Homo sapiens: one gene and its partners. The protein of the gene in region 1 interacts with the protein of each later gene in a pairwise test. Each region holds a gene or a part of one and is shown in the gene's direction. Other genes may lie near its edges. The genes, in order: RBFOX1, RBM47, UBL3 and ATXN2.

The links.
Region 2: the proteins of RBFOX1 (region 1) and RBM47 interact in binary tests that used the Homo sapiens proteins (3 or more experiments, as listed by UniProt).
Region 3: the proteins of RBFOX1 (region 1) and UBL3 interact in binary tests that used the Homo sapiens proteins (3 or more experiments, as listed by UniProt).
Region 4: the proteins of RBFOX1 (region 1) and ATXN2 interact in binary tests that used the Homo sapiens proteins (3 or more experiments, as listed by UniProt).

Annotation. Positions count from the first base shown.
Region 1 is NC_000016.10:6,013,695-6,022,799, forward strand, and holds the start of RBFOX1 (RNA binding protein fox-1 homolog 1), read left to right. Parts: upstream 1-5,329; 5' UTR 5,330-6,204; coding exon of another isoform or gene 6,205-6,207; 5' UTR 6,208-6,298; intron 6,299-9,105. UniProt on the Homo sapiens protein: RNA-binding protein that regulates alternative splicing events by binding to 5'-UGCAUGU-3' elements. Regulates alternative splicing of tissue-specific exons and of differentially spliced exons during erythropoiesis.
Region 2 is NC_000004.12:40,430,368-40,438,699, reverse strand, and holds part of RBM47 (RNA-binding protein 47), read left to right. Parts: coding exon 1-929; intron 930-2,052; coding exon 2,053-2,259; intron 2,260-5,837; coding exon 5,838-6,049; intron 6,050-8,332. UniProt on the Homo sapiens protein: Single-stranded RNA-binding protein that functions in a variety of RNA processes, including alternative splicing, RNA stabilization, and RNA editing. Functions as an enzyme-substrate adapter for the cytidine deaminase APOBEC1.
Region 3 is NC_000013.11:29,839,860-29,848,191, reverse strand, and holds part of UBL3 (ubiquitin-like protein 3), read left to right. Parts: intron 1-8,332.
Region 4 is NC_000012.12:111,451,149-111,457,082, reverse strand, and holds the end of ATXN2 (ataxin-2), read left to right. Parts: intron 1-826; coding exon 827-1,054; intron 1,055-1,963; coding exon of another isoform or gene 1,964-2,038; intron 2,039-3,237; coding exon 3,238-3,406; intron 3,407-4,242; coding exon 4,243-4,271; 3' UTR 4,272-4,869; downstream 4,870-5,934. UniProt on the Homo sapiens protein: Involved in EGFR trafficking, acting as negative regulator of endocytic EGFR internalization at the plasma membrane.

The DNA of each region.
Region 1 (9,105 bases):
AAATAATTTTTTATGGCTGCATAGTATTCCACGGTGTATGTGTGCCACATTTTCTTAATCCAGTCTATCATTGTTGGACATTTGGGTTGGTTCCAAGTCTTTGCTATTGTGAATAGTGCCGCATGGATGAAGCTGGAAACCATCATTCTCAGCAAACTATGGCAAGGAAAAAAAAACAAACACCGCATGTTTTCACTCACAGGTGGGAATTGAACAATGAGAACACTTGGACACAGCAAGGGGAACATCACACACCGGGGCCTGTTGTGGGATGGGGGGAGGGGGGAGGGTTAGCATTAGGAGATACACCTAATGTTAAATGACGAGTTAATGGGTGCAGCACACCAACATGGTACATGTATGCATACGTAACAAACCTGCACGTTGTGCACATGTACCCTAAAACTTAAAGTATAATAAAAAAATTAAAAAATAAAAAGGAAATCATAATGGTACTTACACTGTGAGGACTAAATGAGATGATACAATCAAAGAGCTTATATAGTAAATACCACATGCTTGTTGCTTTTGTAGCTGTTTTTGTTATCATCATGACCATTGCTTAAGGTGCTGTCTTTGCTACCATTAGTATTTTCTCCATCTTATTAAGGGGATGAAGGCAGGAGAGGAAAAGGAATGAGCCCAAGTAGAAGAGGAAAAACTATCATGTTTACTATTTCAAAGACACATTGAAACAGAGTGCAAAAGTTGCTGTCTTTTCACAAAAAAGAGACCTCATCTGTGGACACCAGATAGCTCATTCTCAGTATTAAATGCCTTGGTTAATATCAAAACCCTGACCTACACGATAGATGGTGAGTGAGTTCAAGCAATCAATAACTATATATTGAGTATCTGCCATGTGCCCAAGGACTGAGGGGGGAACAGAGAATATAAGGTGCAATCCATTCCCCTGTGGTCCTCAGACTGACTGTTTTAATTAGTTCATTAGTTGACTCCGTTTGTGAGAAAGCCTTCAGGTAAGTCTGAAGACTGAGAACTTGTGGGCAAAGTAGGTCTTATATAATATTTAAATTGTGCAAATCATGTTATTGAACCCAGAGTCATTTATGGATACATTTGAGTATTGTATCAACTCTTCTGTGACTGCTATTGAAAGGTATCCTTGGGAGGAGGAATAAAAGGATGCTTGGCTACTTGATTTTTTTTTTTTTTTCTGAGACCAAGTCTCACTCTTTTGCCCAGGCTGGAGTACAGTGGTGTGGTTGCAGCTTTCTGTAGCCTCAAGCTCCCAGGCTTAAGCAATCCCCCCACCTCAGCCTCCCAAGTAGCTGAGACTACAGGTGCACACCACTACGCCTGGCTAATATTTTAAATTTCTTGTAGAGATGGGGTTTCACAGTGTTTCCCAGGCTGGTCTCAAACTCCTAGGCTCAAGCAGTCTGCCCACTTCAGCCTCCCAGACTGATGGGATTACAGGTATGAGCAAGAGCCACCACCCTCTGGCCTTCTTAGATTTTTAGATCTTAGATTTTTTTAGCTTGCTTTTTTCATCCTTTTCCTATTCTGTTTAATATATCACTGATAATCTCTTAAAAATCCTAGAGTACTCTGGAGTAATCTACAAATCCCTGGAATTCACTGGATGTTTACACTGACCTTCTGGAAAAGTTATTAAACAAATATAAGATAATAATGGAGAAAATGGTCATTGAAACATCAGTGAAGGCAGAGTGAAGCCCAGAGCACTGGCAGTGGAAATCATTATGGTAATGGTGCATCTTGAAAAGCTAACCAGTCACTCTCCACTGCCTGTGGTAAAGCAAATACGCCTTACAAATCATTTCAGAGCCTGCCTTGGGCCTTCCCTAGCCCATATCTTTAGTTCCAGCTTCTACTCTCTTGGCTCTTTCACCATTGTCCAGCCCCTTAACTTCAACAGGACTCTATTTATATTGAACAGATTTGCTGTTCCTAGAAGGAGCTATGCTGTTTTGCTTCAGGCACTTTCATAAGCTGTATTCTCCTTCGGGAATATCCATCACCCAACTCTCTGTGGAATTCCTATTTATCTTCTCTATTTAGACACGATCTTCTCTAGAATGCTTTGCCTGACCTTCTGCCCTTCTGCCATATCTGGCTATAGGCTCCTGCTCCGTATTGGCCAAATGTTTCAAGACAGTTGCAATCACTCATTTATGTGTCTGCATATGCTATTGGACTGTACGCTTCTCGAGTGCAGAAATTGAGTCTAGTTTATATACTAAATGGTTTACATGGGGGACTAGCCTCAAGAAGGATGCATGTTTGATGACTGAAAGAACAAAGGACTACATAAATGGATGAGCAGGTTGACTTCTCATTTCATTCCAAAGTGGTTAGCCCATTTAGACAGCAATCTACTGCAGGAAAGAAGGAAGGTTCACCTATCATTTATTGAGCTTATTATGTGGCTGGTGCTGTGCATCAGGGAACAAATCTTTGATGTAAAGACCTTTTAGTTTAATAGAAGAGAACAACATTTACAGTAAGCTGAGACAAATGACAGGGTAAAGGTAAATGGAGGTGTTAGAGGAGTTCGCAAGAACACCTTATCTGTGCCTATGGGGGGCTGGGTAGGGAGTTGAGGGATTGGCAGGGAGAAAGTGATATTGAAATGGAGATCTAAAAACTAAACAGAAGCTATCCAGGAAAAGAGAGTATGTAAGGGTATTCCTGGTTGGAGGAACAACATATACAAAAGATTGGATACAACAAGAGAAAAGCCCTCCTGGGTCACAGAGTGAACTTAAAAAGAGCCAGGAGCTGGTAAACCACATGGACAACTTTAGACCTTATCCTGGGGAATAATGAAGAGCTATAGGAAGATCCTAAGTTTTAAAGTAAGATGATGAAATTTACACTTTAGAGAGCTCTCAGCCAAGCACAAGGCTACAAAGTCCTTGTTCTTTTTAAACCAGCTTTATGAAAGGTACCATTTTTGACATTTGCTTAGATCACAAATTGGAAAGTATTTTTCATGTCCAGTAGGAGGAGCCAAAGTCTCCAGGTTCTTTCTAACCATAGCAGGGCGATTCTTGGCCCTAGGTTGTCCTGGGAGCTGTCAACTTCAGCACCTCTCATTTATCTTCCAGTGGCTCAACATGGAGAAATGACAGGAAAAACTCTACTTGGAATGCGAAAGGTCATTGTGAGAAAGAAACTAATACTTTCCAAATGAATAGCATAATGGCATGCCATATTGATCTTTACTCTAATTTTGTTTTAAATTGTAATGGATGCCTCTCACACTCATATTCTTAAGCCATGTAGCAATACAGGTACCAGTGAGTCATGCCTGACACTCATCACTAATCTATCTAAGCCTATTTCTACTCTACAATAAATAAATCAGAGCAGACTCAAGCTGAACTTGATTTTCAGATAGATGAATATGTTTTATTTCCAATGGTAAATATATATATGTATTAAAAATAATCAAAGGGCCCAGCAATTACCCATTTTAATGTAACAACAGCTGATGTTACTGCCTTGAATGATTGCATTCATTTGTTCCTTTCTGGAATAAAAAATGAAGGAGAATAGACAAACAATTCCTGTTGGTGAATTTGCACAAAACAGTATATTCCAACAGAATTTCCCGTTAACTGCCATTTATTTCTTCTATCATTATTGATAATTTGCTTTTAAATTGAGAATACCTCTTTTACAACCCATCTCATCTCCCTGCATGGCTAGACAATTACATTTAAATTCGGCGGTTTTCCCATTGTGAACAGTTTCTGGGGGAAATGATTATGATGTTACCAACCCAGATTTATGGTTTCATTTTGCTATCACTGAAGGATGAGACTAGTATAAAGAAAAAAAAATTGCTTACATACAAATATATTATTATCAAAGAGAATCCTAAGGAAACATATGGTAAAAATCAACCCAAATTGCAAAATCGCTGGGACCAATGATAAAGATATCTTTCTGGATTTTGCAAACTTACTTTTTCAAATGATGATTAAATATTGCGTGCTTTAAAAAGTAATATAGTTATAGGCAGAAGTTCCCTTTCTTTTATTCTGAGGTTGAAAGAAACCGCAGCCCGATAGGATTGCAAGAGGAACCCTTAAGGAATCTGCTCCTTGATGGGCGCTAGGAAATACACGTACATCTAGTACAAAGGAATGCACATCACATGGCCCCCTGTTTTGGAAAGCTTACAGCATTTCTTATAAGAGGATCCATGGTATAAGTGCAAACACAGTCACATCACAGGATGGGAAAATGAACAGGCGCCTCAGATCAAGTGCTCAAGGCTGGAATCTGGCCTTGTCCAATGCCACCTGCCCTTCAGAAGGCAGGGTGGTGCCACATAAAATGAGGTAGACTGCCTGGGGAGTCCTGGTTCCTTGCCAGCTATGTGACCTTGAACAAATTACAACTCACTGAACCTCAGACTGACTTTATTGTACAACAAAACCCCCTGGAATATTTGTGGAAAAAAGAGGAAGGGAGAAAGGAAGGAAGGGAGGAAAGGAGGAAGGAAGAAAGGGAGGGAGGAAGGAAGGGAGGGAGGGAAAGGAAAAGGTAGGGGAAGAGCAGAGTTTCTCACTCCAGTCCAGAGTGGGACCCAGGAAGGGAGAAATATTGCTTTAATCTCTCTAAGCATCTGTGAAATGGATAAACCTCCAGTATCTACTTCCAGTTGTTGAAAAGACTCCATGTAAAGTGCTTAAAACAGCATCTGGTGGAAAGTAAATGCTTATTAAGTGCTAGTGTGTATTAAGGCGTCATGGGGCTTCTGGCTGTAAGACATCTGCTAGGAGGACAATCCCTAGACCCCTTCAGCGTCCATTGCGGGAGTAGGTGGCCAGGAAGGGGGCAGGACAGGAGAGGCCCAGCTGTGCGGGGTGGGGGCGTCCCAGGCCAGCCGCACCCACCCCAGCCCTGCATCCCATCCAGCCTGGAGAACTTTTTGAATCTTGGATAGGGCTCGATCTCTGCCTGGCCGGAAGATTTGAAGACTTGCCAGAAAACTTCCTCAGAGAAGAAATGGACTGGGGCAAGAAGCTGCCTCCACTTGGCGTCTCTAGTGGGGGATTTGTCTACTTTGATTGGGGTTGGGAGGAGGGCGCTGGTGCTCAATGAGTGAGCCCACCTGGGGACTACCAGGACGAGGACGGGCGCAGGTGAAAGTCCTGGGCTCATTGCCCCAGCATCCAACTTTCACCCTCTGTCCCCTTTAGGCCAGGAGACCAGGGTACCGGGTCGCGTGTCCGCCGCCGCCGCCCGCTGGAATCCAGGGCTGCACGCGTGACCGCGGCGGCGGCGGCGCTGGCGAGGGGAAGGGGGAGGGGGCGCTCCCTCGCGCACCAGATTATTTTTGGCTCCGCAGCCGGGGCTGCTCGCTGCTTGTCGCGCGCTCACACACACACAGACACACACGCACACACACACATGCACACATTTTCTCGCGCTCTCTCCGGCTCTCCTTTGTTTATTTTCTAATCTATATTTTTACTGGAAGATTTCCTCTTTATTCTCTCCCGCCCTCCTACAAGCGCTCTTGCTGGCCGTCTGGGTGCACACACCGCTCCCTCGATCACCCCAGCCCCCTTCCTGGTCTCCCGAGCGCGGGGTTTGAAGGTCACCTCCTTTCCAGTCCCCGTGCGAGCCGCGCTGCCGCCGCCTCCTCCAGCCAGAGTCGGTGGGACTGGCTGCGCTGCCCTGAAGTGGTTCTCCAAGCAGCGCGGAGGGTGGCGGACGGCGGACGGAGCCCAGGGGCCGCGTCGGGTGGGGAAACCCGAACTCGCGGAGGGGAATCCCTCCCCCTCCGCCCCAGCCCCCCAGCAGCACCCGCGGTGGGGCGGGGGCGCTCTGCCAGCCCCGGGAACAGCAGAGGCGGCGGCACTGGCTGGACCCACGCGCGCGCCTCCGGGGCTGAAGAAGGAAGGAGTGAGCCGAGCCGAGCACCCCACATCTGGAGGGGACAGCCAGCCGTGGGCCCCGCCCCGGCGTCCGGAGCAGGAGAACTCCGAGCTTCTTGCCCAGGCAGAGAGAGCAGGAGCGGACCGCGCGCCCGGGATTGAGAGTCCTTGCGCTCCAGACCCCCACCCAGTGGCCGCCAGGGTCCCCGCCTGTCCGGACCCTCGCCGCGCCCAGGCAGGCGCGCCAGGGCGGGGCTGACCTGCCCGCGAAGTTGCGGACAGTGCGTGAGAAACCAGCACCCCCTTCCGCCGCCTCCAGCTTATGGTGAGTGTGGCTGGGGGTGCAGAGAGCGCACGGGAATTCGGGGGTCTGGGGCCGAGAACGTGACCGCAGCCGGGCTCGCCGGGAGTTCTAGGTAAGTCCAGGCGGAGTCATTGCCTCTGCACCCACCCTGACCTGGTGGGTCAGGTCCAGAAGGTCTCATGGAGGGAAGCGCTAGGTCCCCGAGAACTGGCCTCCTCCTAGCGCCAGTCTGGGCGCTCTGGACGGGAACTTTTTCAGGGTGTGTGGAAAGATCTCGAGGCGTGTCCCCCCCTACCCCCAGGAGGCCGAGACCCTGAGCCCCCTTGTGCGTCGCTTCCAGAAGCACGTCCTTCCTTGCCCCAGAGCGCCCCTCCGAAGCATCCAGGCTACCTCGTCCGTCCTCCTGGGAGCGAGTCCTAGGTGCCAGGAGCAGCGGGAGCCTGCCTGCGCACTTTGATTAGTCTCCCTGGCCGGCTGCAAGCGTGCACTCAGCGCGCCCCCGGACCGCTGCCTCCGCCCGCAGGGTGTGCAGGAGGAGGCATCTTAGTGACCCGGGAGGGTGTTTAGGTGCCCCGAACCCCTTGTGGGAGGAGGGGAAGAGAAGGCTCACTTATGTGGAGAAAGCGCCGCTGTGTTTACTGGCACTGGAATCGATGCCCCGCGGTGCCACCTCGACCCCAGGGGAGGGGGCCAGCCGGGAAACCTGCGAATGGGAAACTCCTACTGTGCCCCTGGTTCCTGGGAGCCTTAGAGAACCTTCACCCCAGAGAAGGAAACACAGGGGTAGCAGATCTTAGCCCTGTGTTGTTGTGCAGGCCAGGGGGGGGCTTGTCAGCTCCAATCAACCAATTGTCCAGCTATGGAAGCGAGGGCGGGGCTAGTGGGGCGCCGCTCCCATCTCCCCACCGCCCAGGAGGCCACTTGGCTGTGAGCTCCTGGAGCCTCCCTGGCGCCAGCTGCGGGGACCAGGTGTCACGCGGAGCCCGGAAGCTGTCCACTCAGCAAGGGAGGGGAAGACCCCGATCTAACCTTGTCCTGGAGCCCCCAGCTCCATTCCTTGCTGCCAGGGAATGGTCAGGGGGCTGGGAGAGCTCATCGCTCCTGTGTGGGCCAGAGCTGGGGTGCACCTGCTGGCACTGGAACATCTGGGGTGCGGCTACTGAAGAGCTTGGAAATCCTGGTCAGGCAGTCCGGGCAATTGGCACCCCAAAGGCGGATCTTTTCAGTTGAACTTGAAAAGAAGTGGGGGAGTGTGGTGAAATAGCTTTGTTGAGTTGAAACATCATGTCTCCTAACTTGGGTTTTCCTTTATTAGAATAATGATTGTTTATTTTTATTTTTAAACTCCGTTGTGCAGAGAGGCCTGGCCTTGACAGCCCAAGTTTAGGACATGCCCCAGCCTGCCATCCCTTCCCTGCCCCCTGTCCTAGTTCATCTCCCCTCCATTTATCATTTTATCTTTGTTACAAAAGAGAGAAAAAAAAGATGAGAGGGCCTGGATTCTTTCAATTTTTAAGTGACCACAGAGGCCCCGGCTGGAGCTACTGGCAGATTTATTTTTAGCTAAGATCTTTTATGTTCAGAAGCAAAGGACCTGGGGCCTGTGAAGGGTAAAGGTGGTGCTGGCAGTGGCTGTGCTGGTAAAAAGTGGGGCTGACTCAAAACCTGTGTCCTCTTTGAGCTCGTCAGGGAGGCCCTCCGTTTGGAAGAATCCCCTGGGCTTTCCTTAAGTTAGCTTATGGTTGCCTCGGGTTAGGAAGAAAAGTCATCATTCCTCGCGGTAGTGGAAGTGACACCTTAGGGGTCCAGAGAGTGGAGCTTTATGGCTCAGAAGAGCACAGGGCTTCTGGATCCGTTATCTGCCAGCTGTGTGACCTTGGGCAAGTTGCTTTACCTCTCTGAGCTTCGGGTTGTCACCTGTAAAATCAGAGTTTCAGTCGTAGTTCTGTCCTCAGAGGGTTTGGGGGTAAATTACTTAAAGCACTAAACATTTAGAACAGTTTGGCACATGGTAAGTGCCTGAATTCTATGAGTTTTGTTTCTTTATTCTTTCAAGTAGATTCCTCTAATTTTTGAGCCTTGTAGCACCGAGTGGTACAGGAAAGGCAGGTGGCTTGCCTTATACACACACGTTTTCTTTTAAGTAAGGAACAGAAGCCTCAAGCTCTCCCATTCTGCTCTCTGCATGTTCCAAGGAGGATCACGGACAAGCTGCCCACCCACTGGCCAAGATATAGGTTGGTGGCATTTGACTTGCTGTCTTGACAAGCACCTGAAATTAAGTTTTTGCAGCAGTTGTACATTTCTTCTGACCCACTGAAAGGACTTGATCTCCTTGGCCCCCTGGGATGAAAGTATTACCTTAGCAAATCTGTTTTTTTTTTTTTAATTAGAACATCATTTATTTAATACATAGAATATTTTGAAAACACAAGAATCGAAGAATATTAGAAGTGGCTTTATCATTCCTCCTGGGATTCACACATTGCAATTAGTATGTTTAGATATAAAATTTTGTGGCCAGGTGCAGTGGCTCATGCCTGTAATCCCATCACTCTGGGAGGCTGAGGTGGGCGTATTGCTTGAGTCCAGGAGTTCAAGACCAGCCTGGACAACTTAGCAAAACCCTGTCTGTACTAAAAATACAAACAATTAGATGGGTGTGGTGGTGCACACATGTAATCCCAGCTACCCTGGAGGCTGAAGTGGGAGAATCACCTGAGCCTGAGAAGGTTGAGGCTGCAGTGAGCCGATATCACGCCACTGCACTCCAGCCTGGGTGACCAGAATGAGACCCTGCCTCAAAAACAAAACAAAACAAACAAACAAACAAAAAACAATTTGTGATAGTATCTAAACAATTTGTGATAGTATTTAATTGTATAAACATATAAACATCTGTGGCACACATTTGCCCAT
Region 2 (8,332 bases), on another chromosome or scaffold:
GCACCCGCAGCGTGGCTGCGAGGTCTTCGTGGGCAAGATCCCGCGCGACGTGTACGAGGACGAGCTGGTGCCCGTGTTCGAGGCCGTGGGCCGCATCTACGAGCTGCGCCTCATGATGGACTTTGACGGCAAGAACCGCGGCTACGCCTTCGTCATGTACTGCCACAAGCACGAGGCCAAGCGCGCAGTGCGTGAGCTCAACAACTACGAGATCCGCCCGGGCCGCCTGCTCGGCGTGTGCTGCAGCGTGGACAACTGCCGCCTCTTCATCGGCGGGATCCCCAAGATGAAGAAGCGCGAGGAAATCCTGGAGGAGATTGCCAAGGTCACCGAGGGCGTGCTGGACGTGATCGTCTACGCCAGCGCGGCCGACAAGATGAAGAACCGCGGCTTCGCCTTCGTGGAGTACGAGAGCCACCGCGCGGCTGCCATGGCTCGCCGCAAGCTCATGCCTGGCCGCATCCAGCTGTGGGGCCACCAGATCGCCGTGGACTGGGCCGAACCTGAGATCGACGTGGACGAGGACGTGATGGAGACCGTGAAGATCCTCTACGTGCGCAACCTCATGATCGAGACCACCGAGGACACCATCAAGAAGAGCTTCGGCCAGTTCAACCCCGGCTGCGTGGAGCGCGTCAAGAAGATCCGCGACTACGCCTTCGTGCACTTCACCAGCCGCGAGGATGCCGTGCATGCCATGAACAACCTCAACGGCACTGAGCTGGAGGGCTCGTGCCTGGAGGTCACGCTGGCCAAGCCCGTGGACAAGGAGCAGTACTCGCGCTACCAGAAGGCAGCCAGGGGCGGCGGCGCGGCTGAGGCAGCGCAGCAGCCCAGCTACGTGTACTCCTGCGACCCCTACACACTGGCCTACTACGGCTACCCCTACAACGCGCTCATTGGGCCCAACAGGGACTACTTTGTGAAAGGTTAGTGGGGGCTCTTCTCCTGGGTGGGGCCCCCAAGAACGTTGCCTCCTAGGCAGGGGGCACCAGGGATACCGTGGCTGGCATTTGCTGAGCTGGTAGGTGCTGAAGGCCCTCCCACCCCCGTTTTGGGTTTGCATTCTGGGTCTAATTCTTTCCTGGCACCGAAGGCCGTCACTTATGCAGCACTGATAGAAATACAGATCGTTCTGGGGTGAGCGGTAAAATCACAGGAATATGCAAGTGCTGGAATTCTTCCTTGCCGAGGTCCACCGGGTTAGGGGCTAGTCCACCATTCTCTTGGTGCTTACGTTAAAACCTGCTTGTGATATTAAATCTTAAGATGTTGGTGGAGTCCGTGATTTTTAATTTTGTTTTTTGTTATCACTGATTAGGATATAATGACACCCAGCATAACCTGGAAAATAAGATACATAGGTTCTGGGTCCTGTTCTCTGATTAACTGGGTCTGTGACTTTAGTTAGTCACTTTAATCTCCCCTGGCCTGTTTTCTCAAGCATGAAATGAGGAAGGTGGACCAGCAAATCCCCTTCCAAAGCTAACTTTAAAAAAAATTATTTAATAGTATATATATATGTATTATATATATATATATGTATTTTATATATATATATGTATTTTATATATATATATATGTATTTTATATATATATATATATATATTTTTTTTTTTTTTTTTTGAGACAGGGTCTCACCATGCTCCCCAGGCTGGTCTTGAACCCCTGGGCTCAAGCCATCCTCTCGCCTCAGCCTCCCAAAGTGCTGGGATTACAGGCATAAGACACCACACCTGGCCACAGTTTTTTTTTTGGCGGGGGGGAGGGGGTGGTGGGTAGTCTATGAATGTTTTTCTTTACTGAAATTGCAGATACAATCCTAGAAACTCACCCTGCAAGTTTGCCTCTTGTACTAAGAAGACATGCTTAGGATGCAAATCTAGGCTGAAATAGAATGTTGGAAGCATCTTTACCAGCCTATTAAAGAGCAAAGGTGTAGCCACCTGCAATTAAGACTGGGGCAGTTAAATGCCGAGAACCGAGGGCTGAGGTCTGCCTCCAGCACCGTCACTGTTGGTTGCTGATCATCTTTTGTGTTGTTATTACAAGCAGGCAGCATAAGAGGCCGAGGGCGAGGTGCAGCTGGCAACAGAGCCCCAGGGCCTAGGGGTTCCTACCTCGGGGGATATTCTGCTGGTCGTGGTATATATAGCCGATATCATGAAGGGAAAGGAAAGCAGCAAGAAAAAGGATATGAACTGGTGCCGAATTTGGAAATCCCTACCGTCAACCCAGTTGCCATTAAACCTGGTACAGGTCAGTATGAAGCAGATTGAGAATGCTCCCATTCAGCATAAACCCCAGCCCTTCTGTTTGAAGTGAATCCAAGCGTTTTTCAGGCTCTCACATCTGCACAGGGGTTCCTCTTCTCCTAGGCAGCTAGAGACAAGGCAAAAATAAAGTGACCCCCTGGACCTCCTTATCTAGAACTTCAGGGGATGGTGTAGCTTTGACTATGTTCAAATCAAACTTGCCTGAGTAAGGTTTTTTTTTGTTTGTTTGTTTGTTTGTTTTTTTTTTTTTTTGAGACAGAGTCTCGCTCTGTCGCCCAGGCTGGAGTGCAGTGGCATGATCTTGGCTCACTGCAAGCTCTGCCTCCTGGGTGCACACCATTCTCCTATCTCAGCCTCCAGAATAGCTGGGACTACAGGTGCCCACCACCATGCCCGGCTAATTTTTTTTTTTTTTTTTTTTGTATTTTTAGTAGAGATGGGGTTTCACCGTGTTAGCCAGGATGGTCTCGATCTCCTGACCTTATGATCCACCCGTCTCGGCCTCCCAAAGTGCTGGGATTAGAGGAGTGAGCCACTGCGCCTGGCCATGCAGTAAGGTTTTCAAAGGGCTGTCACCCATTGTTAGGTTTTGTCTCAGTCTGTGGCTAAGTAAGGAGAGTTGTAGGGGGAAGAAAGGAAGAACATGAGGCTCTCTGTATCTTCTATCAGGTAAAACCTGTCTTTTCCTTACTCAGGCCTATTTCTGCCCCGACCATCTGAAGTCGGAGGGTAGAGCTTATTGCCCCATTCTGAGAGTTGTTTGGAAGGGCAGAAAATTCCCCTTCAGGAGTAAGCAGCACCTTTTGTCCCTTGTCATGGTCTGAGCAAATAAGAATGCTTGAGGACAAGGCAGTGGTGAAAGTTTTGTTGTTGTTTGAGATGGAGTCTTGCTGTGTCACCCGGGCTGGAGTGCAGTGGCATGATCTCGGCACACTGCAACCTCCACCTCCCGGGTTAAGCGATTCTCCTGCCTCAACCTCCCGAGTAGCTGGAACTACAGGCGCGCACCACCATGCCTGGCTAATTTTTGTATATTTAGTAGAGATGGGGTTTCACCACATTGCCCAGGCTGTTCTCGAACTCCTGACCTCAAGTGAGCCACCCGCCTGAGCCTCCCAAAGTGCTGGGATTACAGGCATGAGCCACTGCACCTGGCCTTTGCTGAAAATTTTTGCAGCTAATTCCCTGGTTTCTCATTTCCAGCACTCATTTCCTCCTCTAGTTGGATCAGTAGATTGGGAGTAGGGATGCTCAAGTATTTCAAGCCAGGGACCCTGAACTTAGCCTTCACCTCCAGGCCCTACAAACCTGTTTATTAATGTCATTAGTGCCCATGACCATCTAATGTGAGGCCGGTCTTCTGATCCGAACCTGCAAAAAACATTAACTCCATTGTGTGAGTCTATCACAAACTCACGTAGCACCCTGCAGAAGCATCCAAACACATGGAAAGCTCAGTCCGTGGGTAATTGGCACGACCCTCCTCCAGACCCCTCCTGGCTTCAGCAGGAGGAAGTTGAAGAACTGTTTGGAGCCCAGCTACTCTGATTTTCTTCTGGTTGAGATTGTACACTTCTCTCCCTAGCTAAAATAGAGTCAAGGAATCTGTGCATTTGGGACATAGGTACACATTGGCCTCATAGAGTTAAAAAGCATTTCCCCAATTGAACTTTCTTTTGATGATTCTAGTAATGATTTTTTTTTTTTTTTTTTTTTTTTTGCCTGTGTAAAAATTCTGCAATTTCTGCAGTTAAGTGACTCCTTAGACTAGATTGCCTTTTAAATGTCATTGGCACTGTGGGCAAAGTAAAACTGATCCCACAGCTCTGTAACTTAATAAAATAGAGCCTGGATATGGGAGTCGTCGCTTCTACTTGTTGAGAAGGGAACTCCCTTTGGCAAGTTACGGTAGCTTAAGGTTTAACAAGAGAAAAGAACTGTTAAATAATCTTTAACTATGTAAAGTTGTGTCCTGGAGCCTGAGGTAGAAATTCCTGTGGGCTGATAGCCAGAACAATTCATTTACTTCATACAACCCCTTGTAGCTTAAACTCACAACCCTCTCTGGGCCCCATCGATTGGCGTCTATTTCTGATCATCCAGAAAATGAGAACATTGTATTTTAGGAGAGGCACCAGGGTGGTGGTGAAGTATCTGGGCACAAGACCAGTGGAAGATATGGTTGGAAAGGCAGGTAAAAGATTTGATTAAGGTTTTAGGTATATTTTATCGAATGGCTGTACCATTGTTTAGCTTACAATCATTTGTCTCTTTACCTTTGATTGAGTCTGTCCTATTTAGAATAAATGTACCTACAGTTGGAGAAAACCAGAAATAGAAAGATTCTTTGTGTACACATTTCATATTTTTGTTTGTCCTTTCAACACACACACACACACACACACACACACACACACACACCCCCGCCCCACACACACACACTCACACAAAAGGGCTGATATCTTTTCCTTTTGATCTCTTCTTACTGTACCTTGACATTCAATAGCTGCTGTTTGAATCTCTGGTTGAAATCATAATTTTGGACTTTACTTGCAGAAATTCTTTGAATTGGGAGGTCCCACTAAAAGCCAATCACTCCACATCTTCACTACTTTGCGTGGGCATGAGGAAACTGGGGAATGTGCTATTTTTTTTTACCATGTGTTTTTCCTTGAATCGGTAATGTTGAAATCTGAAATACAGGGTGGGGAGGATGTACACAGGTCTGAGTTCTCAGAATGAAACCCTCAACAGCACCTGTTTCTTAAATAGTGGTGAAAGTGAAAAAAAGGCAGTGCGGCTGGTAATGAGTGAGGTGAGTAGGAAGGAACAGGCAGGCCCAACTCTCACAGGCAGTAGGCTTCAAGCCTCTGATCTCACTTCTTCGTCTAAGCCTGTTTTCCCATAGTCAGAGGCCCTTTCTTGCTCAGTAGGACATCAAGAATAACATTCAAACTGTGATTTTTCTGTAGAAATAGTAGAAAATATTGGTGCAAAAGCCTTACTCTAGGGGTCTCTTCCACAACAGGCAGGGGGAGTTACCTGCCACCACCCATCCCTTCCTCTAGGGAGCAGGCATCTGGGTACATGGCTTGTACTGAGAGAACAATAGTGAGCATGGAGAGGCCCAGGACCTCTAAACGTGGTTTTAAAAAATATCTTAGGCTGGGCGCGGTGGCTCACACCTGTAATCCCAGCACTTTGGGAGGCCAAGGCAGTTGGATCGCTTGAGCTCAGGAGTTCAAGACCAGCCTGGGCAACGTGGCGAAACCCTGTCTCTACAACAGCAAAAACAAAAAGCTGGGCAAGGTGGCCTGTACCTGTAGTCCCAGCTACTCAGGAGGCTGAGGTGGGAGGATCTCTTGAGGCCAAGAGATTGAGGCTGCAGTGAGCCTTGATCGCACCACTGCATTCCAGCCTGGGCCACAGAGTGAGACCCTGTCTCAAAAAAAAGAAAAGTTTTTAAAAAAATAAAAATAAAAAATATCTTAGAGCAAGTGCTGGACCCCACTCAGCGACTGAAAGTGATTGACCTGTTTTTCCTTCTTGCTTCTCTTGCAGTAGCCATCCCTGCCATTGGGGCTCAGTATTCCATGTTTCCAGCAGCTCCAGCCCCTAAAATGATTGAAGATGGCAAAATCCACACAGTGGAGCACATGATCAGCCCCATTGCTGTGCAGCCAGACCCAGCCAGTGCTGCTGCCGCCGCAGCCGCGGCCGCAGCCGCCGCAGCCGCTGTCATTCCCACTGTGTCGACGCCACCACCTTTCCAGGTAGAGTTCTTATTGCAGGCATTGTCATTTGTGTGTGAAGCCTCTCTTTAACATGGATTCATTTAGTATTCAGCACTGAGAATTTACTGTGTGCCTGGCTCTCTGTTACAGCTATGGTTGGGTGACACAAAGCATTTTGAATTTGAAGCATGACAGAAAAAAAAATTTTTAATTAATTGTACTACCCTAATAATATCATTGTATTAAGGGTGGTAATCAATATGCAAAAATTATGTGTAATTTTTCACAGTGTCATAATATTGTGCATATATTTTTTTAAAATAGCACTGGATAATTTTTAGCTCATATTGTTAAAGAGCTGACACACAAAGTCCAGGGAGTGATTTCACATTTTCACATTTCAAACTGCAGCTCAATGAAGATTTTTTAAAAAAATGTTAACCCCCGTGTGTGTGTGTGTGTGTGTGTGTGTGTGTGTGTGTGTGTAAAGAGAGAGAGAGAGAGAAAGAACATCTGTATAGATACGTAAAATTTTGTGCTGGGTACAGTGGCTCATGCCTGTAATCCCAGCACATAGGGAGGCCAAGATGGGAGGATCACTTGAGGCCAGGAGTTCAGGACCAGCCTGGGCAACATGGTGAGACACTGTCTCTACAATTTTTTTTTTTTAAATTAGCCTGGCATGGTGGCATATGCCTGTAGTCCCAGCTACTGGGGAGGCTGAGGCAGGAGGACCACTTGACCAGCCTTGAGGTCAAGGCTGCAGTGATCTGTGATTGCACTACTGCACTCCAGCCTGGGCAACAGAGTGAGACCCTGTCTCAAAAATAAATTTACAAAATATGCCCATAATCCTCTCTTCCAACCATATCTCCCACTGTTCCCCTATCTCTTCCCAAACTCATCTTACCATGTTGGCCTCCTTCCCCACCTTTTTCATAGTGTATCCTGGTTTCTTTATTCTCATCTCTTCCATAGAATCTTTCCCATCCACCTCCTAGATAAATTTTCTCTCTCTTTTTTTTTTTTTTTTAGACGGAGTCTCGCTCTGTCGCCCAGGCTGGAGCGCAGTGGCGCCATCTCGGCTCACTGCAAGCTCCGCCTCCCAGGTTCACGCCATTCTCCTGCCTCAGCCTCCCGAGTAGCTGGGACTACAGGCGCACGCCACCATGCCCGGCTAATTTTTTGTATTTTTAGTAGAGACGGGGTTTCACCGTGTCAGCCAGGATAGTCTCAATCTCCTGACCTCGTGATCCGCCCACCTTGGCCTCCCAAAGTGCTGGGATTACAGGCGTGAGCCACCGCGCCCGGCCATGAAATTTTCTCTCTTGTACTCCTGATTACTACATCATTACTTGGCCTATGGCTGCCAGTGTGTTCTATCTCCCAAGGAAAATGAAGCTCCTACAGACCAAAGACTGTGTCCTGTTTCTTTGTATCTTCACCTTATAGGACATAGGGAGGACATCCATTTAACAGAAGAAAATCTTGTTAAAGCTGTTTTCTGTGAGGCAGTGAATCATGAATACCGATCACAAGTACTCAGGCCCAGGATCCCTTATCCAATTGAAAAAGAATTATCCAGGCCACTTTTTTTGATTTTTGATTTTTGATTTTTTTGAGACAGTCTCACTCTGTCACCCAGGCTGGAGTGCATGGCTCACTGCAACCTCAACCTCCCTGGTTCAAGCAATCCTCCCACCTCAGCCTCCCAAGTAGTTGGGACCACAAACACGCACCACCATGCCCGGCTAACTTTTTTATTTGTAGGGACAAAGTCTTGCTATGTTGCCCAAGCTGGTATTGAACTCCTGGGCTCAAGCGATCCTCCCACCTCAAGCTCCCCAAGTGCTGGGATTACAGGCATGAGCCGTTGCCTACATTTTTTAAAAAACAGAGATTCTTAGACTCTAATCCCTGAAGATTCCAATTCGGTCAAACTGGGCTGGAGTCCTAGAATTGATATTTTGCACAGCTCCTCAATGATTCTGAAACAGAGCCAGGCCTGTGACCCTCCACAGTAGGATGCTGTTTACTTGCTTTTGCCCACTCTGAACACTAGTCTTGACTGCATTATTCAGAAAGGGCAGACTAATTGAAGCTTATTTATCTTTCAGTATGTCATTAAGTATTCTTTAACTTGGGATCTCTGAAAGACAAAAAGAGGAATTGGTTGTAAATGACACTGTAGAATAACAACTAAGTATAGTTATAATACTTGTGGACTGACGGTAAATATTTACTATAGCGTAGCAGCAGTACTTAGTGGAATTCTGATAATAATTTCTAATTCTCCTTTAGTAAGAAATTCATGAACACTTG
Region 3 (8,332 bases), on another chromosome or scaffold:
GATTACAGGCGTGAGCCACTGCGCCCAGCCTGCTGATGATTAAATTTTAAAACGCCAGATGTTTCTAGAGGAGCAAACCTCATATACAGATTTTATAACAAAAATTAAATGATTCTAAATGGCTTATTTTGACCTTGGTTTAAAGGAATTTTGCTCTTGTTTAATTTCCCATTGAATGCAAAGGAAACACAGTGTTCTGTCTCTGGGGGTGGCCACATAACAGCTTTACAGTCTCCTTCCTGAGTCCTAAAACTCGTGCGTTGTCCTTTTAGTTTTCGCTTCTCTTCTGGTGTGCACACATGAAATAGCCTCCTGCCTGGTTAAGTACGGCTGGACAAGCTTTCCTCCATACTGCTCTTGAAGTTGCCGGGAGCGGTCTCTAGACAGAGCTGGGAAATGCTATTTCCCTTGTTTGATGAGTGATCTGTGGGTTCATCGCCTCGAGCAAAGATTTGCTCTCTCGAAAGCCTCCATTTTATATCATCAAGCACAGTGCAAAATAGGTTAACCTTAAGTACCGTCTATTCTCTCACAGACGTTGGAATGAAATAGATGTGTTATTAAAACAGTGCCGCTACTTCCTTTAGGTCCAGTGAAGAAAAGCTGGAATGTGCGTGGCATCAGTCACAGATTGAGATGATTTGGGAAATACTGTTTCCAAGTCAGAGAGAGGGTTTGGAGGCTGATGTTAGGATCAGAGGACTGGGAAGTAGGAGCAGGGTTTTATTAATATCTGCAATTATAAAATATAACAGTTTATCTGTTTGAGACTGGATGTTAAGGCCTTGATTCTGTGGTGCTTTGAGATCCTTTGATTAAAGGTGATATGCAAGGGCAAAGCAATATTATGTAATAAATATATAATGCCCTGATGATGCTATTTCAGAGTGGGTACTAACGTACAGCACAGGTTTGATTGTTCTGAGTATTTTTTTATGTCTTGTTTTCTACTGTTCAACTGGTTAGAGGTTAAGATTTTCTCTTTGTGAAAGTCTTTTAAACGTTCGTTTATTACTTAACTTTGCATTTTTGCTTAAGAAGTCTATCATTTGCTATGTGCCTAGAATTCTCAACTTTTTGAAATATAACATGACAAATACTGGTTAGAAGTTGTCGATTAAATGCTTCATGATTATTAAACTCTTAATACCATGAATTGACAATTGATTTTAGTTTACATTCATGACAACAATTTACCGCTCCAAACCTTGAAGAGCTCCTCTCACCACTCCCACAGCAAAGCTAATGACATATATCCCTTGCAGCATAACTCTAAATTGATCAGGATATGTACTGTTAAATACATTTTTGCTAGATGCAGTAAAATGTTAAGCTTTCTCCTAGTTGACAGTATGTGCTGTCAACTGTGCTGAAACAAATGTTACACTTTTTTACTTTTTGGTGGTGGTGTCATTTCTATTGAAGTCAATCTTTTATATGTTAATGGTGCTTGTCAGTTGTATAGGAAAATCCTGTTGGGGAGATGGGATGGAGTGGTGAAGTTAACCCCTATCATGTTTCCAATAGAGATAATTTATTCTCGAGCTACAATAATTGCTAAATCAATTGATGTTTTTGGTAAAGTCTTTTTATGGCCGTGATTATGACTCACTTTAAAATAGATTTTTTAGCTTTGGTTTTTGTTTTGTAGGTAGAACTCCCATTTAAAATTTATTTTTGAACATCCAGTAAATTTTTGTGTTTAGCATAAGGAGTCTCATTTTTAATGATCCAAATGTCAATTTTTTGGATGAGGGAGTGGCACCCGTAGTGAATGGATTTGCTGTACCCTTTAAAACATAATTTGTAGTTGGTACTTTTACTACATTCTGCAATATATATGTCCTATAAATATTACAAGTGTATTTACTTGAAATGTTGGTTTTTCTTTGCTAAGAGTGATTGAGTTTGAACTAGATTTAATAACATCTTAGTGTAGTAACTTATTTGTGAAAAAATCTGAAAATATCTCAACAGAATATCATTATAATATATTGTATTTAAATGATGTATTTATTTATTTATGTTGCAGCCAAGATCATAGTTCATGATGCGGCTATATTCATTGTTTATAGTTGCAGTGTGACTTATGTTAACCACTGTAGGTTTTTTGCAAGAAAATATTTACTGCCTGTGTTAGTAATAAGGCCTAAGACTGGGCAAGCAATGGTAATTTTGTTTTCTGGATTGGTAAAGTTATCAAGAAATACATTCTTGTTTTTATAAGAGTATTGTATACAACATTTAGGCTACTATTTAGAGCTTTGGACTAAAATTATACTTTATCTATTACATTGAAAACTTTAAGAGAGAAATTGACAGTGTGAGAATAATGGCAAAGCAATTTTGTGATTCAAAACATTTTAGTTGATAAAACGGTCAAAGAAAAGCCCCGTATCTTTAACAACTGTAATGTAAAAATTGTAGCAGATCAATTTGTAATAGGAGTTGAATCAGATAATGACAATTCAAGTTTTTTCCAGTATATTTTATGTGCTTAATGAATATTTTTATTGTAACTTTTGTTATATCACTTCCATTCATGTAAGAATTATTGGAGCCCTCTTGTGGACAGGAAATTACTAAAATACATTTCCTTTCAAAGTGAACTTTTATCACTTTTCCAAGTTAAAGTAAAATGACATATGTTGAATATACCAGGAGAAAATGCCATGAAAGGAAAAGGTCCAGAAAATAGAAAAGTATACTGAGATTTAATGCCCAGGGACTTTTTCCTCTTTAGTTACAGCTCCTTTTTATTTTTCTTTCTATTCCTGATGATTCTTATTTCAGGTTTAAGTTGGAGGGTTTTATAAAGCCAAAAGGTAGATAAGTACTGTTTACATATATGTGTGACTTGAATAGCTTAATAAATAATATATTAAGAATTGAATGTTTCTCTGAATTTTTACTTGAATGTCTCCTATTTGGTATTTTGAATTAGACATTTTTATTAAGAAAACAGATGACATTGTTTCCCACAGCTTTGAATTCCTTCTTTCTAGCTCTGAATCCTACCCCAGCTTGTGTCTAAAATGGTCTTTAGTTCATTTTAGGCCACAGTGATCTTTCCTTCTTGTAAACCATTTTTCTTTAGTGCTTTTGACATTCCTCTTACACAGGTATCAAATTTCTATGGATATAGTATCACTTTTATTTCACCTCTGATATTTTTTAGACATTCAGAAATTGTTGAGTGACTTTCTTGACTCACAAACTATTACTGTCTTCGTTACTTACAGAAAAAAATAAATATTGTTCCGTAGTAATAGTGGTGTTAAATATGAAGTCTATAATGTCTGCTTCTGTTATCACTTGGAATATGAAAAATATATATTTATAGTATTAAAACTTGAAGTTATTTTAAATTAGTGGATAAAATACTGATGGTGCTAATAGTTTTCACAATATAGAACATTAAATATGTTTTAGGAGACTGAAGCATATACTTAGTAAATGTGCTCTTTGATTTTCTAAGTCATCTTATTCTGGGAGGGAAAAATGAAGAGTGACTGTAGAATTCATGGTAACCTGGAAACCTTGGGTAATAAGTCATTCCGAACCAGTAAATTTTCTGAATACTTGGAGGTTGAGTGTTAAGATAGCCCAATCTAACAATGTTGGATTACCATTGCATTTGCTTAAATGAAATATACTATGCATAATTTAACTTATTTTTGATGACTTAGAGCTATGATTTGAATAATATTGCTTGCATTCAATCAGTGTTTATTGGGTACCTGTCTGTGTAATATGGTAGTAGTATTAACAGGCATAAGCTACAACTATAATACCCTCGGCACCTAATATAGATTGTGAAGCTTTATGCCCCTTCACTAGATCAGTAATTTACAAAATGAGGTGAAGCAAGTCAATTTTGAGAAGTAAATATGAGAACTTCTGTTTGTTTATTTTGTCCCCCAAAAGGGAAAAGAATTGAGCTTTTCTATTCATACTATGTGAATTGGCTGTGAGGTTCTCCTAGGTCCACCTGCATTCAGGTGGTCACTGAGAGTGTGGTTTGCTGAGGGAAGATGTGTGAATTCTAGAATGTAGATGCCAGCAACAGCACCATGAGTTTCTCAGAGTTTTTCCAGTTTTTCTGTTATATAGTCCCTTTAAAAATACTTTTTAAAAGAAGAATCTATGATACTTCTTATTGAGATGGGGAACAGAGGTTTGCTGTCAAAGCATTTAAGAGTTGTAGAACTCAAAGATTAATCACACATTTTTATTACAAAAGATGAGTATTCTATATGCTGTTCTTATCCGTGATGACAAGAGGCTACCAAAAATAAAAATCTAGCGGATGTGTTTGGGAAAAAATCCCCAAGTTGTCACTTCAAGGCAAAATCGACATTTTAAACAGTAAGTGAGAAAGTACCTGCTTTTCAAAAGAAACATGTTATGGAGAACATTTTGAAAGCATGTTGAAGTATTTACAGTCTGTTGAAAATCTTCCTTACAATGAATTTTAATTGACTTTGGACCATTTATTGGAAAGCCAAACATTTTAATTTGTAAACATTCTTATTGCAGTCAGGAAAAAGAAAATTTTAATAACATTGACATCAGGTAGCTGACTTTGAATAAAAATGTTTGCGTATTTGGTGATAGAATGAAAAAGTAATATGATTTAGTAAGTTAGTAAGTGACATGTTCTTCTATATAGATCTCATCTTTGTAAGATAAGTTTTTCAGGTATGACTTATGACAGCTCTTAAAACCAAGTGCAAAATACATTGAACTTCACAAAAGAAGAAACTAAGATTTAAAAAAATGGAGATATATTTAATAATAATGCTCACCTAATATGTTAATAGTAATAGCATTTTTAGTGATTGAAAGATTAAAACAAGTTAATATTTAAAATAGTTGATAGTTAAAATAGTAAAGTAAAAACAAAATTTTAATCTTTTAATTTCTGTTTTTAGTATATGTTTTATACTATGTGTATGTTTATAAATGAAAACACATATACTATAGGTATGTGCCTCAAGTATTTTATATTTGGGATCTTCAGTCAAAAAAATGTAGGAGCCACTGCACTAGATGACTAAAGATTTCTGAGCATTTTAACTTCTTGTGTTTGATAGTTAGAAGTTTTCTGTCTCCTGCCTTGTTGAGCAGCTGTTTTTTCCTGTGATCAGTGTGCCTACTTATTCCTAACCATTTACAGTTGCTGGTTTTAATTTGCTATGGGTGTGGAAACCATATTTCCAAAGTTTATTAAAAATAATATGTGTTTAAAATGAGCAAATGGTGTCTGAGTAGGATTTTAGGAGTTACCTCACAGTAAAGTGAGTATCTTTTGTTTCATGGACTTGATCATATCTGTTTTGGTTGCTTAGAATTCTCTTTTTAGGAGGGCTAATTTTCTGGCTGTTAGTTATGTTTTGCAGAGATGCAGTTTCTTGATAGTGAAGAACTGCTTAGGTGATAAAAAAATTACACATAACTTTACTTTGAGCTCGTAGAGGAGAGAGAACTAATATTTGTTGTGTACTTTCTAGTACCAGGCAGATGCTTGGCATTTTACATTATAGCATTTAATTTAATCCTTACAGTCACCCTGGATAAATATGGTTGGTATATAGATAAAGAAACTCTTAATACCCACCAGGTGAAGACCACCAGGAATGCATCTGTGGTGAAACAAGTTAGGTTGACTGTTTTGCAGCTAGGAAGAGCGTATGCCAGATCCTGCCAAGTGTCAGTAAAAGAGAATGGGAGGGCTGGGCACGGTGGCTCACACCTGTAATCCCAACATTTTGGGAGGCCGAGGTGGGTGGATCACTTGAGGTCAGGAGTTCGAGACCACCCTGACCAACATGGTGAAACCCCCATCTCTACTAAAAATACAAAAATTAGCTGGGCATTGTGGCAGGCGTCTGTAATCGCAGCTACTCCGGAGGCTGAGGCAGGAGAATCACTTGAACCCAGGAGGTGGAGGTTGCAGTGAGCAGAGGTTGCAGTGAGCTGAGATTGCGCCACTGCACTCCAGCCTGGGCGACAGAGTAAGACTCTGTCTCTAAAAAAAAAAAAAAAAAAAAAAAAGAAAGAGAATGGGAGGAGTTTTCAGTAGGGTTTGGGCTGTGCTGGAAGCAGGGACTCCTGGACTGAATGCTATCGTACATCAACTGGAGGTGGGTTAGTAATTGGGTCTTTCAGCAGTCTTTGTTTAGGAGACAGGATAAATGAAGGGGATTTGGAAAGTCATTGGTGAGAAAACATAATCACTTACAGAATGGGAGATTGTTGGTCATTTTGGAGCTGCAGTGTGGCCATAGGAAAAACTTTTTACCTGTTGGTCTTCTATCTTTCAGATATCACAGTCTGATTATCAACCGAGCTCATTTTTACTTTCTCACAGCCTAGGTTCAGAGAGGGTAAGGAACTTGTTTGAGATCACATAGCGAGGAAGAAGTTGAGCTAGAATAGGAGTTTGGGTCTGGTGGCAATAGTGATAAACATCTACACCCCTCCCCACAACGGTAACTGAGCAAACATTACTGAATCCCTCAGGCACATTATCCTAAGAATGCCTTAGATTCCTTCCCAATACCTTGCTCCAGGGAGTCCCTACTGATTGGTCTGAGCTAGCATGGTAGAAATGAAACCTACTTCATATATCTTTGTAATAAACTATGTAACATCTGGATTGGAATGATTTTAATTAAGGTTGGTTGTCTTACTAATTGGTAAAATTAAAGGGAGTTTCCTTTAAACTTGTTGGAACTTTGAGTCTTCTTATGTATATATTTGTTACACAGTGGATTTTTCTTAAAAAGTACTACTTTGAATGCTTTATATATATATGTAACAAATAGATTGACTTGTAAAGGATTTAGTGATTTCGGGGCATTTTGTTTTTGTCTCCATACTTTTAACTGCATATATATATGTAGAGAGAGAGAGAGAGAGAGAGAGATTCTCTATTGGTTGGTCAAATCTAGTAGCATTTTTGGTCTTAAGTAAATATATATTTGGGTAATTTTCTGACTAGATTTTGAGAAGAAAATGTTCTTTCTGCTGAAGAAAATTGTTGAAGTTTGACATTAACATTTTTGTTTATGTACTTAAGATGGCAATTTATTGTGTCTAGACAAAATGTTCTTATGATATATGTTTTTCTTTACTTTCATATAAAATTAGTGTTTTTCTTTGCCTTAGAAATAGTCTTGCTTTTGTATCCTGCTATTCTCATTGTCATGTTAAATCAAGTTTAGCCTAAAGCTGCCTCCTTACATATTTAAAGCTCAGCCTATATTATGAACATCTATCTATGCAAATAAGTATAGAACCGTATTATAATTTTGAACCGATTATGATAGATGTATATAAATTATTTAGCGAATTCCATATTCATGAGCATTTAGAAGCTATTACAAACAATGACATAATGGATATTCTTAAACATATCTCTGTGCCTTGTCTGATTATTCCCTTAGGACAAAACTCTTAGTAATGTAGTTGCTCTGTCAAAAAATATGTGTTAATTTTGGGATGGGTGGGAAAGAGAAGGATATATATTTCCTAATTTTAAAACATCCTTGAATTTCTGGATAAACCTAGCTTTTAATTTTACATTACTCAAATGGTATATGCTAGATAATACTTCATTGAGTTTTTTTTTGTTCATGAAAACAATTGGCTAGCAATTTTAATTTCTTGTAAAGTATTTGACAGATTTAGGTATCAAGGTTATGCTGACCTCATAAGATGAGTTGGGAAATGCTTTTTAATACTCTGGAAGAATTTGTGAAGATTGATTTTATTCCATCCACAAATGTTTGAAAGAATTCACTGGTGAAGCCCTCTGGAGTTTTCTTGTGAAGATTATTGATTGTATTTCGTCAGTACATAAAAAGCTATTCATATTTTCTATTTCTTTGTCAATTTTGACAAGTTTTGCTTTTCAAGAGATTTGTCCATTTTGTCTGAATTTTCCAGTTCAGCTTAAGGTTTTTGTGTGTGTGTGTGTATCCTTTTATAATTGTTTTGGTATTTGTAGTATCTATGATCTCTCCTTTTCAAAATCTGCTTATTGTAATTTGGGTCTCTTTGTACGCAGTCTTTTCAGAGTCCATTTTCAGATAAATGTTGTTTTTAACTTTTTACTGATTTCTGCCTTTACCTTTATTTCTTCTATTTAAAAAAATGATAATTTTCTGTACTTTTAAAAGTTTTTTGAGATGAGTACTTAAGTCATTAATTGTCAGCTTATTTATTTTTTAAAATCTTCTTTTTTTTTTTTTTTCCCCCGAGACGGAGTCTCACTCTGTCGCCCAGGCTAGAATGCAGTGGCTCCATCTCTGCTCACTGCAAGCTC
Region 4 (5,934 bases), on another chromosome or scaffold:
CCCCTGGGGTGGTGGTTTTAAGAATCACATTTAAAGGCTGGGCGCAGTGGCTCACGCCTGTAATCCCACCACTTTGGGAGGCCGAGGCGGGTGGATCACGAGGTCAGGAGATTGAGACCATCCTGGCGAACACTGTGAAACTCCGTCTCTAATAAAAATACAAAAAAATTAGCCGGGCGTGGTGGTGGGCGCCTGTAGTCCCAGCTTCTCGGGAGGCTGAGGAAGGAGAATGGCGTGAACCCGGGAGGCGGAGCTTGCAGTGAGCAGAGATCGCGCCACTGCACTCCAGCTTGGACAACAGCGAGACTCTGTCTCAAAAAAATAAAAAATTAAAAAAAATCACATTTAAGATACATGTTGATAATAAGGTGATTGGATAAGCTCTGGAAACTTGCAGTAATGAAAAATCAAATTTAACATAAAGTTCATAAGGCAAATTCCTATTTGCTTGGGACTTTTTAATTTCTAAGGTTTATGTGATGAGGTTATTTTCCTATGAGCTTCTTGAATTATGTTTGCTAATGGAGGCAGTTAAAGATGTCTTTGATATCTATCAGTTCCCTGGGGCAGTAGTCTTTTTTGACTTTAGTATGTATGCTCAGAAGTTTCTAACTGCCAGACTGAGAATCAGGCTTCTGTACCCTAGAAAGGAGTTGTCCAGATGGGAGGCACCTCCAGCCTTGCTCTTACCACCCTGTACATTCTCCTGTACTTTCCAGTGACCCTCATCATAGGCCCAAGTGTGCAAAGCTTAGCTTTGTGGGTATCCCTTGGCTGCTTTTCATTAAAGAAGTTTTCCTCTCAATTCTTTCCTGTCGCTTTGCAGCACCATCAGCACCAGGCCGCCCAGGCTCTCCATCTGGCCAGTCCACAGCAGCAGTCAGCCATTTACCACGCGGGGCTTGCGCCAACTCCACCCTCCATGACACCTGCCTCCAACACGCAGTCGCCACAGAATAGTTTCCCAGCAGCACAACAGACTGTCTTTACGATCCATCCTTCTCACGTTCAGCCGGCGTATACCAACCCACCCCACATGGCCCACGTACCTCAGGTAATACCAGCTTTAGCCAACTTTCTGTGAAGGCCAAGTAGAATGTGAAGGTTATCAGTAAGCAGCTAGAGGCTCTCCCAGCTAGGAAACCCTGTGTGTCATGCCATTTGCCTGTCTCCCTTTCCCTCTCAAATACACGTGATCTGGCCCTAAGGGAATGTTTGTGTGGTTTTGTCATGGGATCAGTGAAGGTGCTGATTGGTCAGTCCTTTAGTTTTCCAACTGAGACCTTAAAAATATCTTTGACTCTGGAATGCAACCCAGTCCTTCTTTCCTTTCTGTGTCTGCTTTGCTATGTCTATATAGCCTCACTACTATATATATGTGTACATATATATTCCCCTACACACTTACCTTGGAAGCCAGGCAGGGATGATGGCCTTCACAGAGTCTCAGCTCTCCGAAGTGACTACCGGGGCCTGTCAACTTGATTGTTACTCACATGAGTTCCAGACACATCTCTCCAATTGTTTTCCCTGGTTATCCATATATCTGCTTTGACCATAAGTTGTACTCTTGAGAGGGCTTGGCCTTGGACATTGGTGCAGTGTAACTAGAAGCTGGAAGCACCCAGGTGGTCCCATTTTTCTTTAAGAGCAGCCCTGGAAGCACTTTGGAGCTCACCTCCAGTGTAAGCTGCTACAGGTGAAAGGTGTGCTTGCCATCTCAGTGGTTGCTGTCTGCATCAGCTGCTGACAAAGGTCCCTGCACTCCAGGGCCCAGGGGATTGTCTTAATGAGGAGAAGGAGCTGCACTGAAGTTGGGCTCTAACGCTGGCCTTGAGGCCCTCCCTGGGGCTGTTACGGGTGAATTGGCTGTATTAGATGTCTCTGCTACTTTCATAACAGAACTCTCTGAGGCGGGTCTAAGTGAGACCTGCCACAATGAATTCCATTTCCTGTTAAATAGTGCGCCAGTGAGGCTCTGGCAAGGTGTGGGCTAGAGATGCGACTCAGTTGGATCTATCTCTCAGAAGGCTACCTTGTAAGTAGAGTTCCACAGCTCTGGGAAGTTTGGGCGTCCTCACCCTGCAAAGTTTAGGTTCTGTGGTGTAGCGCACTGCAGTTGATTTGCTTTTTGATAGTGGGGAGGGAAGCCGGTTTGGTCCGTGTGGGCCAGCGTGGTTTGGTGGAGTCAGCTTCATAAGAGCTGGGGTCCTGTAGGTGTCTACCAGAGGCTGGTGGCTAAGTAGGCATGTGAACTTACATGTAAGTCAGGGATCCCTAAAACCTCACTCTGTTTTTGTGCTGAAAGGGCAAAAAGGTTAACACAGGGAAGCTCAAATTTGCCATGTGCCCGTTTGAATATGTGAGAGTAAAAACGGCATTTCATCCAAGGCTTATCGTAGTCTAGAACAGTGCACAGTGTGGGAAAAAGGAAACAAGGGCTCTTCCTGGCCCTGCCAACCCCCTGCAGAGCTGGAATCCAGCTGTTTGGGCTGACTAAAATCACCTTTCCAACTTGACAGTGAGTGAGACCAGGTTGAACTTGGTACAGAGACGCTGGGCTGGCCCAGATGACTTCAGGTTACTCCTTTCCATCTCACTGGAGCCATTAAAAACTCCAACTCCTCCTCCTCCTCCTGCTCCATCAGCATATCTCTGAGAGAGTCACGGGGGCCTAAGAGTCTCTTTTCACTGCCTGGTGAGCAGACCAGAAGCAGAGGGAGAGAGGCAAATGAACAGAGGTCCAAGTAATTCACATACTTGACTGTGACAGTCTCTGCTTATTAATGTAATCTGTTTTCCTATTTGAAAGGGATGTTATCTGCAAAACTACCTCAGGCCCCACATGGCAGCCTGATTCTGAAGCATCATTGAATCTTGTATGATATTAAGTTGAGAAAGCTGCCCTTGGATCCAGTGTCTAATCTTTGTGAAGATCTTACCCCATACATAGAATACAATGATCAGAAATGTCAAGGGTTAGGACAGCACAGCCCTGACTTCTACCCAGGCTCACTTGTTGCCTGCTCCCTGACCCTTGCAGGATCTGCCCAAAGGTGAAGCGCGTCTTCAGGTCAATAGATAATCTACTAGAGATTGTCCCCAGAGAACAGAACTGGGCCCTGAGGCCCACCGTTGCCCTTTCCTGAGAGTCCCAGCCCAGTGAAAGGAACACAGTTGACATGTTGTTGAAGCCGGAGATGTTGCCTGTATGCGTAAAAGAGCTCTCTGTTTCAGGCTCATGTACAGTCAGGAATGGTTCCTTCTCATCCAACTGCCCATGCGCCAATGATGCTAATGACGACACAGCCACCCGGCGGTCCCCAGGCCGCCCTCGCTCAAAGTGCACTACAGCCCATTCCAGTCTCGACAACAGCGCATTTCCCCTATATGACGCACCCTTCAGGTGAGGCGTGTGTGTGCAGGGGCCGCCGGGGCACCCCAAAGCATTCTGCTCGCACAGGTGGAATGGCAGGCAGGGCCAGTGCTTCAAGCCCCGCATTTGAGAACTAGCAAGACCCGTCCAGGAGTGTGCACAGGAGGGACTGTGACGATCAGTTCAGCATCAGGGCCTGAGGCTTCCGGGAGCCGAGTCTGTGTGTGTTCTGATGGTATACAGGATTTGGCTTGATGAGAAGCAGCAGCAGCAGCAACAGCAGCCTGATGCATGCCTAGGACTCAGTTGGCCTTCCTTGTTATGACAGGCTGGACAGGGCAGTGTTTTCCTTCCTGAGTCCCAAAAGTCTGACATGTGGGGGGTTATTACCATGGCAGAGTTTGATTGTAGCTCTGGAGAAGATACTGCTGAGAAAGCGCTGTGGATGGACTGGCTTTGAGTGTAGCGTTAGCCCCAGCCCCTGAACAGGGGAGAGCGCCCTGTGATTGTGCTCTACTACTTGATGGCTGCCATGGCGATACTTCACAGTCTGACCTGTTATTCTGAAAGCAATACTGGTGCTTGGCTAATATTTGGGGAGGGGGTTTGTTAAGGCCTTTTTTTCTACCCCATGAACAAGTCTTCTGGGAGTTTTATCTGAAGTGGTTTTACGTCTGACTGGTTTGTTTCTACCCACCCACCCAACCCTCCCCACTTTGGTGCAGATGGGAGGGGGAAAAGCGAATTCAATTTTGAGTTTTGTTCAGCTAGCACGAGGATAGTTTACAATCATGTGCTGCAGAGACACTAGGCTGATGTGTGGTGTTGCCAGTTTTCTGTTTCAATGTTCGCTTTTCTTTTTACAGTACAAGCCCACCACCAACAGCAGTTGTAAGGCTGCCCTGGAGGAACCGAAAGGCCAAATTCCCTCCTCCCTTCTACTGCTTCTACCAACTGGAAGCACAGAAAACTAGAATTTCATTTATTTTGTTTTTAAAATATATATGTTGATTTCTTGTAACATCCAATAGGAATGCTAACAGTTCACTTGCAGTGGAAGATACTTGGACCGAGTAGAGGCATTTAGGAACTTGGGGGCTATTCCATAATTCCATATGCTGTTTCAGAGTCCCGCAGGTACCCCAGCTCTGCTTGCCGAAACTGGAAGTTATTTATTTTTTAATAACCCTTGAAAGTCATGAACACATCAGCTAGCAAAAGAAGTAACAAGAGTGATTCTTGCTGCTATTACTGCTAAAAAAAAAAAAAAAAAAAAATCAAGACTTGGAACGCCCTTTTACTAAACTTGACAAAGTTTCAGTAAATTCTTACCGTCAAACTGACGGATTATTATTTATAAATCAAGTTTGATGAGGTGATCACTGTCTACAGTGGTTCAACTTTTAAGTTAAGGGAAAAACTTTTACTTTGTAGATAATATAAAATAAAAACTTAAAAAAAATTTAAAAAATAAAAAAAGTTTTAAAAACTGATCAAGTTAGTGTGTGTCTGTATAAGCTACTTCTTTGTAGGATACTTAATATCAAAGCAGGTGTGCTAAGGGTGCATTTTGAATATCCCGGAAGGTAGCTGTGAAATGATTTTTCTTCTTCACCCTTAGTTCTGGTTCAAGGTATCTCTAGAAAAAGACAAGACTGAGCTATTCTCTTTGGTGGATTAGAGATCTGCTTCAGGAGGAGGAAGGTTGGCCAGAGTTGGGCAGCACTGAAATTCCACATCCTCGGGCTGACACCGATTCTGTAAGCTTCCTTTTTAATATCTCCTGAACCAAAATGAGTGTCATTAGCTGGAAGTTCCCAATTCGGGCATTTTTCTACTTTACCAGTAGGGGGCAGGAGACACTCAGAAAAAAATTGCAATAAAGAAATCCAGAGGGCATGAAGGCTGAAAAGATACAAAGATGTACAAAGCTGCTTATTGACATGGATGGACTCATAAGCATTTGTTAGTATTCCCAGATTGCAACGGGGAGGACAAAGGGAAGAGCGAGTATTTGGGCAGGGCAAGGATTTTGTAGAGACACCATGGTCTTAATAGAGCCTTTAAATATTATGACAGCAAATCAAGATTCTGAAAACTTTTTAATTCACATATAGCAATTTGTACATTATAGCAAAATTTGCATTATTCAAGAATAAGTTACTTGTACAGTACATAAAACAATACATAAAAATTTGCCAAATACCTTCTGCCTATAATGATACAAGATGAATCCACTTTATGTTATCACAATGTGCTGTATATTCTAACCAAACACAGGATGTCAGATGTGTCCTTGTTAATATACTCGCAAGTTCCTCTAGCTTGTGGGAGATGTTAGAGCTAACACATTTGCAGTAAGGGACTTAGTCCTGAATAGAAAGCATGAAGGAATCTCAGGCAACCCTCAGGGAAGAGTCCAAGGCCTTGACTTTAGGTTAAGAAACTGTTATGTAAAAATAGTGTTCTCTGGCCCAAGATTTTAATGATTGCTATTCCTTTTTCCTACGGTCCAGAAATGATCAAAGGCAGAAGATTTATACCAGATAAAGCCATAT